Linked DNA regions of Homo sapiens: region 1 is linked to region 2. Evidence: fine-mapped expression QTL. Tissue or cell type: whole blood. Region 2 holds a variant in brackets; the other region holds the start of a gene. All regions are shown on one strand. Distances are between the middles of the regions.

Region 1 (8,000 bases), 34 kb before region 2:
CTGGGCATCAGGACTAGGCTGGAGTCCTGGCTCAAAACTCTACCACAACCTGACACTGGGCAAGATGGCCCACCTGTGGCATCCCAGGTTCCTGCCCTGTAAAGAGGAGTCTGGGTGTATATCCAGATGGACTGTGAGCACAGCCTGAGTTTGCCCTGTCGAGGTGCTGAGGCCTGGGAGATTGGGGTGAGTAGCTGTGGTCCAGGGAAGGTTGGCAAGCTGGGCCTTAGATGAGAGGGGATGCTTGGTCAGGCAGAGGTGAGTGGAGAAGGCAGGGCAAGGAAGGGAATATGAGCGGCGAACAAATGGAGTGGACATGGTGGGGGCAGAGGATGGTGGGAAGTGGCCTTGTTGCGGCCAGAGTGGAGGAAGAGATAAGTGGGAAAGAGTGGAGTCGATTACAGAAGGCCTCGGAAACCAGGCAGAGATGTTTAAATTGGCTCTCTCAGGAAGGAGAGGGCCATGAAGGGATTTAGGGAAGGGTCATGACATGATTATGCTGCATTTTAGCAGGATTAATGTGACCTGGTGCTCAGAATGACTTGGATGGCATGAGGCCAGGAGCCGAGGAGGACAGTTAGAAGACTCTTGTAATATTTCTGGCACAGGGAGATGGACTGGGAGTTGGGAGGTGGCAATAGGTCAGGCCTAGAGACATTTCTCAGGAAATATTGACAGGCCTTGGGGCCTGGTTGCATTCATGGAGTGGGGAGGAATGAGTCACCTTGAGAAGCAGTTTCCCTCTCAAAGGCCAGGGAAGACAAAGCAGAGGCAGCTTTCCTGCCTGCAAACAGGACATTTCAGGGTAACCTGGCTCTTCCAAGCGTCAGCTTCTCCCTGGCTCCAGCTCAGATAGGAGTTGTAACAACGGGTTGGGCATGGGTGATGGCACCGGCTGGTGGCTGGGTTAAGGGCCATGTTTTTGATTATGCATTAGGCTTATTCAGCCTGCCAAGTGCCAGGCCCTGCGCTTGTGTAGGAGACAGAGCAATTAGCAAAACATAGTCCTCCATCCTCAAGGAGTTTCCAGCCCTGTGAGCTTGGCAGATCTGCAGAACTCAAATGAAATGGCAGTTGAGAACAACCATCTTGTTCTCATTCACTCCATTTTGCTTAACGGCCATGTAGGTAGTTCCAAATGTTTGATGTGTACCAGAAAATCTCTCTCTTCCTGGTTTATAATTATGATCCAGGGCAAATCCAGGTTTTGTTGGGCTTGAAAATTAAATAAATTGGCACTCTCTATGGAAAATAATTCAAATATAAATATACAAATATCACACTGCTAGGCCCTCCCAGGGCCTAGAAGGGTAGGAATGAAAGTGAGAGTCCCTGAAGCTTTAACCGCATTAACTTTTCAGTCAGTTCTATGATACCTGCCATTCCTTAAGTGTGTATTATGTGCACGTATTTTGCGTACAGTATTACACAACAATCAAGGGGAGGTGAGGTGGGCATTAGTGTCTTCATCTTATGGATGAAGACACAGTCTCAGAGGTGATTCAAGATGCCCCTCTGCATAGGCCCTAAGGCAGGGGGTGGGGACTGTGACCTGGACAGGAAGCTGGGGCCTCAGGACTGCATCTAAGCTCCTCCTTTTCTGTGGGTGATGGTGGCTGTCAGGCCCCTGAACCTACGTCATCCCTCCCTCTGATTTGACTGTACCTTTGCTAGGCCTGGTCAAGGGCTAGGGACTCCTAAAGTCAAGAGCTAGGGTAGAGGTTGGGGGTTGGATCTCAGGGCACCATATGGTGCAGACTTGGTTGCAGGAAAGTGACCTATTTAGGCAGAGGGGCTCTATACAACTGGGACCACAGCAAACCCTAGAGGTGAGCACCTGCTTCAAAGACTCACAGATCCAAGCTGTGATCCTAGATCTACAACTTCCTGGCTGTATAAAGTCCAGCAAGACTGAGGCCTCACTGAGCTTCAATTTCCTTACCTGTCTAACCAGAATAGCAACAACTTGTTTGTATATTTGAGCTCATTACATGTCATTTTGTAAGGCACTAAAGCTCCTGGAGGCTTCCGGAACACAGAAATAATTAATCTAAGAATCCTAAAGTGGCTGTCCTGGTAGCACCTCTAGGGAGTCCTCCCATCCTACGTAACTTCCTCTGGGAAAGTAGAAAACACGGCACCTGGGAAGGGGCGCTGAACCGTGCCCCAAGTCCCAGTGGGCCTGGATGCCCAAGAGCAAGAGGAGGCCCAGAGGATGGGGACAGGCCACGACCTGTGGCCCAAGTCCCGCCCAGAGGGAGTGCGCCCTGAGGGAGAGCCACCGGAGCTGGTGACTCGGGGGCGGGTGCTCTGGGGTGTCGCTTTGGGTTCAGCAATACAAATCTGCCAGCTGGAGATTAGGCGGGGCACGCCGGGGAGAGGTGATGCACTGCCGCTGAAGACCCAGGTAGGCCGGTGCGTTCGGCCTGGGTGAGGAAGGCGCGGGACCCGGGTGCGAGGACTGCGTAGCGTCCCCGGCTCCCGCTTCCGCCCGCTTTCCACGCCCACTTCTGCAAGTCCCCTCCGGCACCTCGGCGTCCACCGGACTCCTAGGGGCGAGCCCTCATTTCCGAGGAATGGGACCGCCTTCGTGCCCCCGGGGCTGCCAGTCCCTAGACTAGCCCTAGGGGCTTCTCGTCCCGGCGGAGCCGGGCGGTGCCTCCTGCCTGCGCCTCGCACCTCCCCGCCTGGCACGGCCCACCCGGGCACGGCGCCGCCACGCGTGAAGGCCCGCATCGGCTCCCTACGTGGGGGACGTGCAGGATGATGCGGGGTCGGGGGGGATTTCGCTGCGTCGCCCGCCCCCTTTCCGGCGCAGGAGGGAGCGGCCGCCGCGTCCCCGCTCCCCGGCCGGGACGCCACCGCCGGGCGTTGCAGAGGCGCGCCGCAACCAATGGGCGTGGAGGAGGTGGGTCGGCTGGCGGCTGTCACCCTCCAGGGGACGGGAGCGCGGAGACCGGGAGCGCGCGAGCTGTCGCCGCGCCCCGGGCCGAGGGGGAGGAGCCGGGGGAGGAGGAGGAGGAGGAGCCGCCGAGCAGCCGCCGGAGGACCACGGCTCGCCAGGGCTGCGGAGGACCGACCGTCCCCACGCCTGCCGCCCCGCGACCCCGACCGCCAGCATGATCGCCGCGCAGCTCCTGGCCTATTACTTCACGGAGCTGAAGGATGACCAGGTCAAAAAGGTGAGCCCCCGCCCGCGCCGCCGCTGGTCCTGGCCGCAGCCTTGCGTTCCGGCATCCGCTCGCCGCCTCCGCTGCCTCCATCCTCCGGCGCCCGGCCTTCTCCGGGCCAGCATCGAGTTGGACTGCAGGGCGCAAGGAAAGCCTTCGCCTTCGATTCTACCGGCATTGTCAGTGTCTCTGTGTGTGTGCGTTTTTGGGAGGGGGGCAATCGGGCGGAAGACCCCCGAGACCGGGCTGCCTGCTGCAGTGTCCTTGAAACGGGCCCTGGATGTCAGATAGGCCCCCGGGCTGTGCGGGGAGGTGGCCGGTGGGCCCTTCCGCAGGGCCTGTTCGGGAGGGTCCGAGCGCCGTGGGAGGAGGTGTGATCATGGAGATGCTGGGGAGGTGATCGAGCAGCAGGCGGGGGTGCTGGCTGGAGGCCAGGCCTCCCATATTTGGGGTTCCTGGCGGAGGGTGTCGGGTGCCCCGGAGAAGCTGTCGCCGGGCTCTCCCAGTTGTTTGAGCTGCTCGTTAATCTGAGGACGAGGTGACCCGCCCGGCTTCCCGGAACGGGGAGGGGCGGCGAGGCCACCGGAAACTTTGCTCATAGGCCTCGTGTCTGGAGCGGCACGTCTGAATGGAATTTTTTATTCCTCTTAAGCTGTAATTTCTAGCCAGCACAGGAGCTCAAATAAGCGACTGGTCATTTGAGTTGGGTGGACGCCTGTGGCATGCTTGTTCTAGCACTTGGACGCATGCATCCTCCTGTCCTGAGGTGTTGTTGCCTTTGACATCTTAGTGTAAAATACTGTCCGCTGGCAGGTCTTAAAGGTGTATTTGTCTCTTCTGCCAGCTGTGCTACCATATTTTAAAGAAACAGCCTAAGCTGTAGGGAAAGACGCCCGTTTTATCAGTGCCAGGTCTGGTACAGGCTCCAGGCCCACCCACCCTGAACGTGGTGACGTTATTGCTGGGGTTAGCTGGGATGGACTGGCAAAGTCATCTTGACTTTGGCGTTCAGACAGGTGGAGTTCTACAGGTGAAAGGCAGGAGTGACAGGCCTTGATTTTCTGCCCGGCAAGCCATAGGGTGTTCCATCCTCTTCCTGTGCATCTAAGATGACTCCCTCATCTGGCACCATAGGAAACAGGCCTACTGAGGGCAGCGACCTTATCAAGGTCACCCAGTGAGTTAGAGGCAGAGCCAGTCAGGGGGATCCAGGTCTCCCAGTGCCTCCACCCAGGAACTTCACCAGGGTCCTCCTGGAGGTCAGCTTCCAGGAGGGAGTGGGTACTGAGAGACAAAGCCGCTGGGGACCCTGCCGTGATCTTGGATCCCATGGTGGGTGGGGACCGGGAGTGAGGTAGGTAGGAGATAGGCTTGGGAATGCCATCTGCCATTGCTCTTTATGGCTTTAAGCACTCTGGGGTTGTCAAACCGTGGCACTCGAAACACTTGCTCCTATGGAGCACCCTGGAGCTTCCCTCTGGCCACTGACCTGGGAGCTGTGCGTGCGGGTGTGTGCATTTCATGAGTTTTCTCTAGTGGTGTTGTGCATCACTGATGTTCTTCCCATTGGACCAGGGAGACAGTTCTCCCGGCATGGCAAGAAGTGCCCAGAACAGGCCTCCTGAAGCCAAGAGTTCACTGTCCTCCTGCACGTGGTGTCCTTTATAGCTCAAGACAGTGGGCTGCTGGGCTGGGGGGTGCCTGGGTGACCTTGTAAACCTCCAGTGTCCACACCCACCACCACCCACAACAGACTGCTGGCTGTTGGCTGCCGGTGGCCTCCAGCAGCTGAGCTGGGCTGAGGTTTGGACTCCATTCAGTGGGACATGTTTTCTCAGACATACAGTGTCTAGGGTGGGCCCAGAGCTCTCCACTCCTGTGGGTGGCTCAATTCACATCTATGGATGCACAGTCTATCTCCTAGGCCCCCGTAGGTACCTGAGTGTGTGATTCAGTTGACCCTTCCATCCCTCCTCACTCCGAGTTTGGGATTCTGATGTTCTTCCCTTCTCTTCCCCGAGAACCTTGCTGGAGGAAGGTCTTAAGGCCAAGGTTTCCACCAGATATTATTTGTCAAGGAGATTCTTAAAAACAAGATGTTTGCTTGCATTTCACCACGGACTTCCTATGCTGCTTTCTATAGGGGAGTACGTGGATTCCTGCCAGGGGGTCCACTCATTTTGCATAGTGGACTGTGTGGCACAGCCATCTGTGGGTGTGGTCCTGGCTATGATTGCGCCACCGCACTCCAGCCTGGGCCTTCTAAGGACAGTGACATAGTGGGTACTTGCTCCAGTGACCTACTCAGTTTTGCCCAAGTGTGCAGATGCTGGGGACCACATCTGCTCTTCTGGGGCCCAGGATTTCTTAGAGACCAGCTCTTTCCACGTACCACTCACCATAGGAAAGGCTAGGTGAAGGTGCGGGACCCCCTGTTCTTCCTGTGGGGCTGGACTCTGCCTGCCTCCCAGCAGGGACCTGCTGAGGATGGTTCCCCCCCAGCGTGGGCAGCCATGATGATTCAGCCCTCCAGCTGTAGGCAGCCTCCGGGGCTCTGGAGACAGACCTGGCATCCCTCAGTAACTCTCATCTATCTTCTTGCCCTCAGAGCCAGAGGTAGGAGAAGGGAAGCTGGGGACCATGCCGGGGAAGTTTTTGGGATTGCTTAGAATCCAAACGTGATCATGAAAATGGTGTCATTTCTTTCTTCATTGCCTATGAGGCACATCAATAATTCAACTCCATAAAAATATATCCTGGGTTGAAACAGTTCAGGTGTCTGACTTCCCAGCTTGGAACCCCATTATCCAGACGGCATCTGCATAAATTGGTTAATGGGTGCTGTTGAAGAGGGTGTACTGGCATTAGGCTGAGCTAAGCACAAAACACATATATTCCTTTCACTCTTCTAGTGCCTGTAGGAGGAAAGGGAGGCATATGTGTGCTTGTGAAGGATTCCATTCATCAGAATCCCAGACATCTGCCAGTTCTGCAGCTAGAGGCTGGGTTCTTTGACCTCTAAGTAACTTTAAACACGCATCTCATCTCGCCAGCTTCTTCCACTCGGTTTAGCCATTAGGAGCTTGGAGCAGGGTGAAGGATTGCATAGTGCTCTGTTTGTTTAGAAAGGGAAGATGGGTCCAGGAAGGTCAGAACTTGGCTTCTAAAGAAAGATTAGACTTCCTTTCCTCCAGGCTTGTCAGAATGGTGAGCAAATGCCAGTGGATTTTCTCTGGGCGAGATCCCCATAACGCTAAGTGATTTCCACTAGTAGGTGATCATGAAAAGGGTGTCATTTCTTTCCTCATTGCCTTGAGGCACATCAATAATTCAACTCCATAAAAATATATCCTGGGTTGAAACAGTTCAGGTGTCTGACTTCCCAGTTTGGAACCCCATTATCCAGACGGCATCTGCATAAATTGGTTAATGGGTGCTGTTGAAGAGAGTGTGATTTGTCCAATGGCCGAACTCAGGAGTCCTTGAGTACTTGACCCAGGAAGACAGGGGAGAGTAGGCTTAGCAATTAAAGGGTTGCCCAAGGTACATTCCTTAGAGCCTATGTGTTCCAGCTGCAAAAGCAAGCATTAAAAATAAATAAATAAATAAAAGGCCGATGTAGTGGCTCACACCTGTAATCTCAGCACTTTGGGAGGCTGAGGCGGGTGGATCACCTGAGGTCGGGAGTTCGAGACCAGCCTGACCAACATGGAGAAACCCCGTCTCTACTAAAAATACAAAATTAGCTGGGTGTGGTGGCGCATGCCTGTAATCCCAGCTACTTGGGAGGCTGAGGCCGGAGAATCACTTGAACCTGGAAGGCAGAGGTTGCGGTGAGCCGAGATCACGCCATTGCACTCCAGCCTAGGCAACGAGAGCGAAACTCCGTCTCAAAAAAAAAAAAAAATGCCCATTCATTATTGCTCAGGGGTGAGAGAGGTGATAGTTAGAAAATTGTGAAAAATCTGGCTGGGCACAGTGGCTCATGCCTGTAATCCCAGCACTTTGGGAGGCTGAGGCAGGTGAATCACGAAGTCAGGAGTTCAAGACCAGCCTGACCAATATGGTGAAATCCCGTCTCTACTAAAAATACAAAAATTAGCTGGACGTGGTAGCATGCACCTGAAGTCCCAGCTACTCGGGAGGCTGAGGCAGGAGAATTGCTTGAACCGGGGAGGCGGAGGTTGCATGAGCCAGGATCATGCCACTGCACTCCAGCCTGGGCAACAGAGCGAAACTCTGTCTCAAAAAAAAAAAAAAGAAAATTATGAAAAATCTGTGGGTTCTTGCAGTGGCAAAGAAAAAAAAGAAAAAATTATGAAAAGTCAGCCTGGGCAACAAAATTAAACCTCATCTTAAAAAAAAATTTTTTTTAGCCTGCTTTGGTGGCATGCACACACCTGTAGTCACAGCTACTCAGGAGGCTCATTGAGCCCAAAAGATTGATCCCAAAACAGTGAGCTGTGATGCTATGATTGTGTTACCGTACTCCAGGCTGGATGATAGAGCGAGACTCTGTCTCAAAAAAAAAAAAAAAAAAAGAAGAAAGAAAATTATGAGAAGTGTCTCATAACCTCTCAATTCTGATGTTGTACAAATATTCAGTGAGAGCTTCTTGGTGAATCTTGACTTTATAATCCCTGCCTTTCCTACCTTAGATACTCCTAGGGTTTCTCCCAAGAGAAGCCCCATCACTTTATCTGGTTGGATAGTTTGGGAATGTCATGAAGGAATAAACTGGCAGGCAGGGTGTCTGTGAGGTGCTTTCACATCTGGCCAAGCTGTGCCATGCTCCCACGCTCCTACTGTTCTCCGGAGAAGACATAGGCA
Region 2 (8,218 bases):
TGATGTTACAGGGGAAGGAGGCAGAGAAAAGGGGCAAGCCAAGGCAGGCTGTCTCACCCCCAACCCCTGAGCTAGCCACATAAAATGTGGGTGAGACCACAGGCTACAGCTCCAGTACCTCTGCAAGGGGGTGACTGGACACGACAGCTCTGAATCAGGGAGCCAACCCGAGGTAAAAGGGACTGATAGGTCCCTTTTGTTATGGAGGGCAAGTGGGTATTTGGGGGATTCATTTCCTGACAAAGAATATTGAACTAACCTGGAAACCTTCTGGTTGTAGCTGAAGGAAATCTGACTCAAATTTGTTTAAGAAAAAAAGAGAATTCTAGTTTCCTATAACTGGGAAGTCTCGCTGTGAGTTGACTTCTGTATCTAGGGATTCATCTGTCTCTTACTAGTTCAGTCAGCTCCTTTCCTGTGTGTTGGCTTCATTCATAGGCCATCTCTCCTCTTACAGTGGCAGGGACGGCCCCTGCAGCCCTAGGCTGACCCCTCCCCTTATAGCCAGCGATCTCTGTGCAAAGAGCAGGCCTTGCTCCCCATGGACCTGTGATGGTCTTGGAGAGGGCTGTGATTGGCTTACTTGGGTTATGTGCCCATCCTGAACCAATCACGATGGACAAGATGGGTGACTTGGGATGCCCCTGGATCCCATGCCTGGATTACGCATTGGTACCCCTGGAGCTGGAGTGGGGATTCAGCCCCACTTCCAACCTCATAGGTGAAAAATGGGAGGGTAGTTATCTAAAGAGATGCTGGACATCCAGGAAAGTTTATCAGTTATCTTGTTGTCCTTAACAGACATCATTCCTCAGTGTCTTTTGCCCGGCAGCGTATAGGACCAGCACTTTGGGAGGCCGAGGTGGGCGGATCACAAGGTCAAGAGATCGAGACCATCCTGGCCAAAATGGTGAAACTCCGTCTCTACTAAAAAATACAAAAATTAGTTGGGCGTGGTGGTGCATGCCTGTAGACCCAGCTACTCGGGAGGCTGAGGCAGGAGAATTGCTTGAACCCGGGAGTTGGAGGTTGCAGTGAACCAAGATTGCGCCATTGCACTCCAGCCCGGGCAACAGTGTGAGACTCCATCTCAAAAAAACAAACAAACAAAAACATGAAATAAATAAATGTTTAGGTGAACATTAAAACAGCAAATTAATTAAGTAAAATATTAAAATAAAAAGTACCGATCATTTCATCTCAGTGTAGTATTTGCTTTTGTGCCCCTTTTCCCCCTATGCACAAGTGGTTTATAGTTGTTTATCAGACTGAGCTTTCACTGTCTTCATTAGAGAATGAAGCAAAATAAAACCAAAGCTGGCCGGGCGCCGTGGCTCACGCCTGTAATCCCAGCACTTTGGGAGGCCAAGGCAGGCGGATCACGAGGTCAGGAGATCGAGACCATCCTGGCTAACACAGTGAAACCCCGTCTCTACTAAAAAAAAAAAAAAAAAAATTAGCTGGGCGTGGTGGCGGGCTCCTGTAGTCCCAGCTACTTGGGAGGCTGAGGCAGGAGAATGATGTGAACCTGGGAGGTGGAGCTTGCAGTGAGCCAAGATCACGCCACTGCACTCCAGCCTGGGCGACAGAGCGAGACTCCGTCTCAAAATTAAATAAATAAATAAATAAATAAATAAATAAATAAAACCAAAGCTAGGCCAGGCACGGTGGCTCACGCCTATAATCCCAGCACTTTGGGAGGCCAGGGCAGTCGGATCATCTGAGGTCAGGAGTTTGAGACCAACCTGGCCAAGGTGGTGAAACCTCGTCTCTACTAAAAATACAAAAAATGAGCTGGGCGTGGTGGTGGGTGGCTGTAATCCCAGCTACTGGGGAGGCTGAGGCAAGAGAATCGCTTGAACCCCGGAGGCGGAGGTTGCAGTGAGCCGAGATCGCGCCATTGCCGTCCAGCCTGGGCAACAAGAGTGAGACTCCGTCTCAAAAACAAAAACAAAAACAAAAAAAACAAAACAAAAAAACCCAAAGCTATAAGGAATCATGGAAGTTGAAGAGCCCCAGAAAAGAAGTGTAGCCATTCCTGATGTGCTGAAGTCTCTCTCTGGCCCCCACTTTCCTTGGGGATCCTTGTCCCTGAGTTCTGTCCAGGAGGCAGTTTTCATGGTTATACATTATGGCTTCGGATTCAAATGCTGACTCTGCCACTTACTGGTTGTGCGTTTGGGCAAGTTATCTAACCCCTCTTTACCTTTACTTGCTCATCTGTAGAATGGGCATCCTGACAGTACTGACTTCATAGGGTTGTGAAGATTGAAAATAAAAGGATACGTATAAGCACTTAGTGATTGGTACAGAAAGACTCAGTGAATGTTAGCTGATGGATGGTCAAATAAAATGTTTCTGATATTCTAGTGACTCACCTGCGAGGAGCTACTTCATACTGAATTCAATTTTTTCAGTTATTTCAATTTTTTTTTTTTTTTGAGACAGAGTCTTGCTCTGTTGCCCAGGCTGGAGTGCAGTGGCATGATCTCGGCTCACTACAACCTCCGCCTCCTGGGTTCAAGCGATTCTCCTGCCTCAGCCTCCTGAGTAGCTGGGATTACAGGCACCTACCACTACACCCAGCTAATTTTTGTATTTTTAGTAGAGACAGGGTTTCTCCATGTTGGCCAGGCTGGTCTCGAACTCCTGACCTCAAGTGATCCACCCGCCTCAGCCTCCCAAAGTTCTGGGATTACAAGCATGAGCCACTGCGCCCGGCTGAATTCAATTTTTTAACCTAGTGGTGGTGTAAAGTACTGTTGGAGTTAGGACTCCAATGGGAGCCCAAAGAAAATTCTATATTGATTTGAACAATGCCACAAAGTCGGGGTCAGAATTTCCACCAAATCTATGACACCTGCTTCCCAGCATTCTCCCTTGTTCTCTCTCTTTCCTTTGGACCACAAATAATTTAAAACCAGTGGCTTCATGTGATATATACATATAATGGAATATAATCGGTTCATAAAAAGGAATGAGGTACTGATCCACGCTACAGCATGGATGAGCCTTGAAAACCTTATGCCGGGTGAAAGAAGCCAGACACAAAGGACCTAATATTATACAATTCCACTTATATGAAATGTCTGGAATAGGGGCATCTGTAGAGCAGAAAGTACATTAGTGGTTGCTGGGAGATAGGGAGGTTGGGAGGAAATGGTGAATGGTTGTTAATGGGTATGGAATTTCTTTTGGGATGATGAAAATTTTCTAAAATTAGATAGTGGTGATGGTTGCACAACTCTGTAAATATGCTGAAAACCACTGAATTTTTCACTTTAAAATGGGTAAAAATTGTATGCTATATTATTATATCTCAATAAAACTGTTATTAAAAAAACAACCAACCAATATGTGAAATAATAAGAAATATACATGTTGGTCTCTGCCCCTAGTCTCTAGCATTTAGCTTCTAAAACCCTTGTAATTTCTTGAGCAATACAGGTGCTAGGAGAATCTTTGATCCTGGTCCTGACTCAGAGCTCCTAAATCCCTTGGAATTTCTTGGGTGATAGGAGAGTCTCTTTTGTTCCTTGGTGGGACCCTGGATAGCCTCAGGATGGGGGGCTGGTTGCCAGGGGGAACCAACCATGTGATCAGAGGGTTGCTGTCAGCCCCAACCCCCATGCCGCCTCCAGGGAGGGAGAGAGCCTGAAAATAGAGCGAATAAACCAATGGTCGATGATTTAATCAATCGCAACTGTGTAATGGTGCTTCCACAAAAACCTAAAACAGGCCAGGTATGATGGCTCACGCCTGTAATCCCAGCATTTTGGGAGGCCCAGGTGGGTGGATCGCTTGAGCCTAAGAGTTTGAGACTAGCTTGGGCAACATGGTAAAACCCTGTCACTACACAAAATACAAAAAAAAGTTAGCCAGATGTGGTGGCACGTGCCGGTAGTTCCAGCTACTCGGGAGGTTGAGGTGGGAGGATCGCTTGGGCTCTGGAGGTTGAGGCTGCAGTAAGCTGTGATCATGCAACTGCACTGCACTCCAGCCTGGGTGACAGAGTGTGACCCTGACTCAAAGAACAAACAAACAAAACCAAAAAAAAAAAAAAAAAGCAAAAAGAAGAAAACCTAGAATGACTGAGTTCTGGTAGCTTCTGTCTAGCTGAACACATGGAGGTTCCTGGGTGGCACATCTGGAGGGGGCATGGAAACTCCTGCCCTTTCTCCCATGCCCCTCCCTGTGTATCTCTTCCATCCAGTTCTTCATCTGTATTTATTGTAATATCCTTTATAGTAAATATGTAAATGTAAGTGAAGTGTTTTTTCTGGGTCTGTGAGCTGCCGTAGCAAACTAATGCAACCCAAGGAGGGGGTTGTAGGAACCCCGATTTATAGTGATCAGCCAGAAGCACAGGCCACAACCTGTGCTTGTGACTGGTGTCTGAAGTTGGAGGGAGGGCAGCCTCGTGTGAACGAGCCCTCGACCTGTGGGATATGATGCTATCTCCAGGTAGCTAGTGAAATAATTGAATTGAATTAGAGAGCATGGAGCTGGTGTTCACTGGAGAATTCACTGCAGAATTACTTGCTTGGTGTGTGGGGAAAAACCCACATGCATCCAGGGTCACAGGTGTGTTCTGTGTTGTGGTGAGTAGAGAAAAGGAAAAACATACTCTGGTTTTTCCTCTGTGTGTGTCTCACATGATGGCGTAACTGCTTTGTGCTTAATAAACAGCAAGCAGGGGTGCTGTATTAGTCCGTTTTCATACTGTTAAAAAGAACTGCCTAAGACTGGGTAATTTATAAAGGAAAGAAGTTTAGTTGACTCACAGTTCAGCATGGCTGGGGAGGCCTCAGGAAACTTACAATCATGGTGGAAGGAGAAAAGGCATCTTCCTCACAAAGCGGCAG[G/A]AAGGAGAAGTGCTGAGCGAAGGGGGAAGAGCTCCTTATAAAACCATAAGGTCTCATGAGAACCCACTCACTATCACGAGAACAGCATGGGGGGAACCACCTCCATGATTCAGTTACCTCCACCTGGTCTCTTTCTTGATATGTGGGCATTGTGGGGGTTACAACTCAAGATGAGATTTGGGTGGGGACACAAAGCCTAACCATATCAGGTGCCTTGAATGAATGAATGGACCACCAGTCCCTGTGACCAGGCAGCTAATGAGCATTTGCTGAGCTGTCCTGGGTGCCAAGGACAGAGAATCCCAAGTTGTGGTCTTTCCCTCAAGGAACTTGAGAACGAAGATAGGAACAGGCTGGGCGCAGTGGCTCATGCCTGTAATCCTAGCACTTTGGGAGGCCAAGGCAGGTGGATCACCTGTGGTCAGGAGTTTGAGACCAGCCTGACCAACATGGTGAAAACCCATCTCTACTACAAAATACAAAAATTAGCCAAGCATGGTGGTGGACACCTGTAATCCTAGGTACTCGGGAGGCTGAGGCAGGAGAATCACTTGAACCTGGGAGGCAGAGGTTGCAATGAGCCAAGATCACGCCATTGCACTCCAGCCTGGGCAATGGAGGAAGACTCCCTCTCAAAAAAAAAAAAAAAAAAAAAAAAGATAGGAACAGTGACATTCAATGTGAGAATTCCTTGGTTTGTTGTTTATTTCTTTATACCTTCATTAATTCCACAAGTATTTGCTCAGTTTTTACCTACATTCCAAACACCATTGTAAGTTCCAGAAATATAGCAGTGTGTCAGGGCTTATAGCTTGGTAGAATCAAATACAAAGATAAGTCAGCTTTATTGTTAAAAACAGAAAGCAAACCTTATTTTGTGTTGAAAATCAAAAGCTCAAGGGACCCAGAATAACCAAAGCAATCATGAAAAAGAAGAACAAAGCTGAAGGAATTTCACTGCCAATTTCAAAATTTTCAGCAAAGCAACAGTAATCAAGACATGTGGTACTGGCATGAAGGTAGACATGCAGACTAATGGAACAGAATAGAGAGTTCAGAAATAAATGCATACAGGCTGAGTGTGGTGGCTCATGCCTGTAATCCTAGCACTTTGGGAGGCCGAGGCTGGTGGATCACCTGAGGTCAGGAGTTTGAGACCAGCGTGGCCAACATGGTGAAACCCCGTCTCTACTAAAAATACAAAAAAATTAGCCAGTTGTGGTGGCACACGCCTGTAATCCTAGCTACTTGGGAGGCTGAGGCATGAGAATTGCCTGAACCCGGGAGGTGGAGGTTGCAGTGAGCCGAGATCATGCCACTGCATTCCAGCCTGGGTAGCATTCCAGCCTGGGTAACAGAGTGAGACTTTGTCTCGAAAAAAAAAATAAATGCATACATTACGGTCAATTGACTTTTGACAAGAATGCTAGGACTATTCAATGAGGGAAAGAATAGTCTTTTCAGCAAATGGTGCTGGGACACTGGATATCCACATGCAAAAGAATGAAGTTTGACCTACACCTCATACCATATATAAAATTAACTTGAAATGGATCAAATACCTAAATGTGGGAGCTAAAACTAATAAAACTCTTAGAACGAAATACAGGTTTGAATCTTTGTGACCTTGGATTTGGCAATAGAGTCTTAGCTACAACTCCAAAAGCACAAACAATAAAAGAAAAAACGTAAAACTGGACTTCATCAAAATTTAAAACTTGGCCATGCTTGGTGGCTCATGCCTGTAATCCCAGCACTTTGGGAGGCCAAGCAAGAGGATCACTTGAGCGAAGGCATTTGAGACAGCCTGGGCAACATAGTGAGACCTTGTCTCTAAAAAAAATTAAAAATTAGCCAGGTGTGGTCGTATGCCTGTAGTTCCAGCTACTTGGGAGGCTGAGGCTGGAGGATTTCTTGAGTCCAGGAGGTCAAGGGTGCAGTGAGCCATGATTGCACCATTGTACTCCAGCCTGGGCAACAGAGCAAGACCCTGTCTCAAACACAACAACAACAAACATAAAATGTTACTGCATCAAAGGATACCATAAAAAAAAGAAAAGACAATCCACTGAATGGGAGAAAATATTTGCCAGTCATATGTCTGATAAAGGATTTGTATCTAGAACATAAAAAGAACTTTTACAACTCAACACATAAAAGACAAATGAGGCCGGGTGCGGTGGCTCACGCCTGTGATCCCAACACTTTGGGAGGCCGACGCAGGCGGATCACAAGGTCAGGAGTTCGAGACCAGCCTGGCCAACATAGTGAAACCCCGTCTCTACTAAAAATACAAAAATTAGCCAGGCGTGGTGGTGCACGCCTATAATCCTAGCTACTGAGGAGGCTGAGGCAGGAGAATTGCTTGAACCCGGGAAGCAGAGGTTGCAGTGAGTCGAGATTGAGCCACTGCCCTCCAAGCTGGGCAACAGAGCGAAACTCCATCTCAAAAAAAAAAAAAAAAAAAAAAGGAAAAGATAAGCCAAGTGTTTAAAATGAGCAAAGGATCTGAATAGACATTTCTCCAAGTGGCCAATAAGCACATAGAAATGTACTCAACACCATTAGTCATCAGAGAAATGCAAATTGATAAAGAAGTCAGACTGTAATAAGTGTTGATGAAGACATGGAGAACTGAAAACTTCATGCATTACTGGTAGGAATGTAAAATGGTGCAGCTGCTTTGAAGAATGGTGGTAATTCCTTGAAAAGTTAAACATGGGTTACTATTTGACAGCGATTCTTGTCCTAGGTATATATACCCAAGATAAATGAAAACGTGTCCACACAAAAACTTGGGCACAAATATTCATAGTAGTGTTATTCATAATAGCCAAAAGGTAGAAACAAACCAAATGTCTGTCAGTAACAAATGAATAAATAAAATGTGTTATATCTATAGAGTGTAACAGCCATTAAAAGGGATAAAGTCTCATATGCACTATAACATGATGAACCTTAAAAACATTTTGCTTAGTGAAATGAGCCAGTCATACAAGGTCATATACCGTATGATTTCTTTTCTTCTTTTTTTGAGACAGGGCCTCGCTCTGTTGCCCAGGCTGGAGTGCAGTGGCGTGATCTCAGCTCACTGCAACCTCTGTCTCTTGGGCTCAAGAGATTCTCCTACCTCAGTCTCCAAGTAGCTGGGATTACAGGCTCACACCACCATGCCCATCTAATCTTTTTTGTGTTTTTGGTAGAGACAGGGGCTCGCCATGTTGCCCAGGTTGGTCTCAAACTCCTGAGCTCAAGCGATCCACCTGCCTCAGCCTCCCAAAGTGCTGGGATTACAGGCATGAGCCACCGCACCTGGCCACTGTATGATTTCATTGATATGAAATGTCCAGAAG

The links. PIP is the estimated chance that this variant, and not a neighbour inherited with it, causes the effect.
Region 1: HK1 starts here. The variant in region 2 is fine-mapped to the expression of HK1 in whole blood (INTERVAL, PIP above 0.99).

What each region holds. Positions count from the first base shown.
Region 1 is chr10:69,315,829-69,323,828 of GRCh38, forward strand. HK1 (hexokinase 1) reads left to right here and starts at 3,019. Exons shown (of 18, transcript NM_000188.3): 1 at 3,019-3,182. The coding sequence starts at 3,120. RefSeq lists enhancers at 2,033-2,262, 3,553-3,602, 5,188-6,104 and a silencer at 2,573-3,252.
Region 2 is chr10:69,349,570-69,357,787 of GRCh38, forward strand. All of the region lies in intron 2 of HK1 (hexokinase 1), which reads left to right. Among named protein-coding and RNA genes, the nearest start is that of HK1, 35 kb to the left of the region's middle. The variant G/A (reference allele first, on the strand shown) is at 4,866.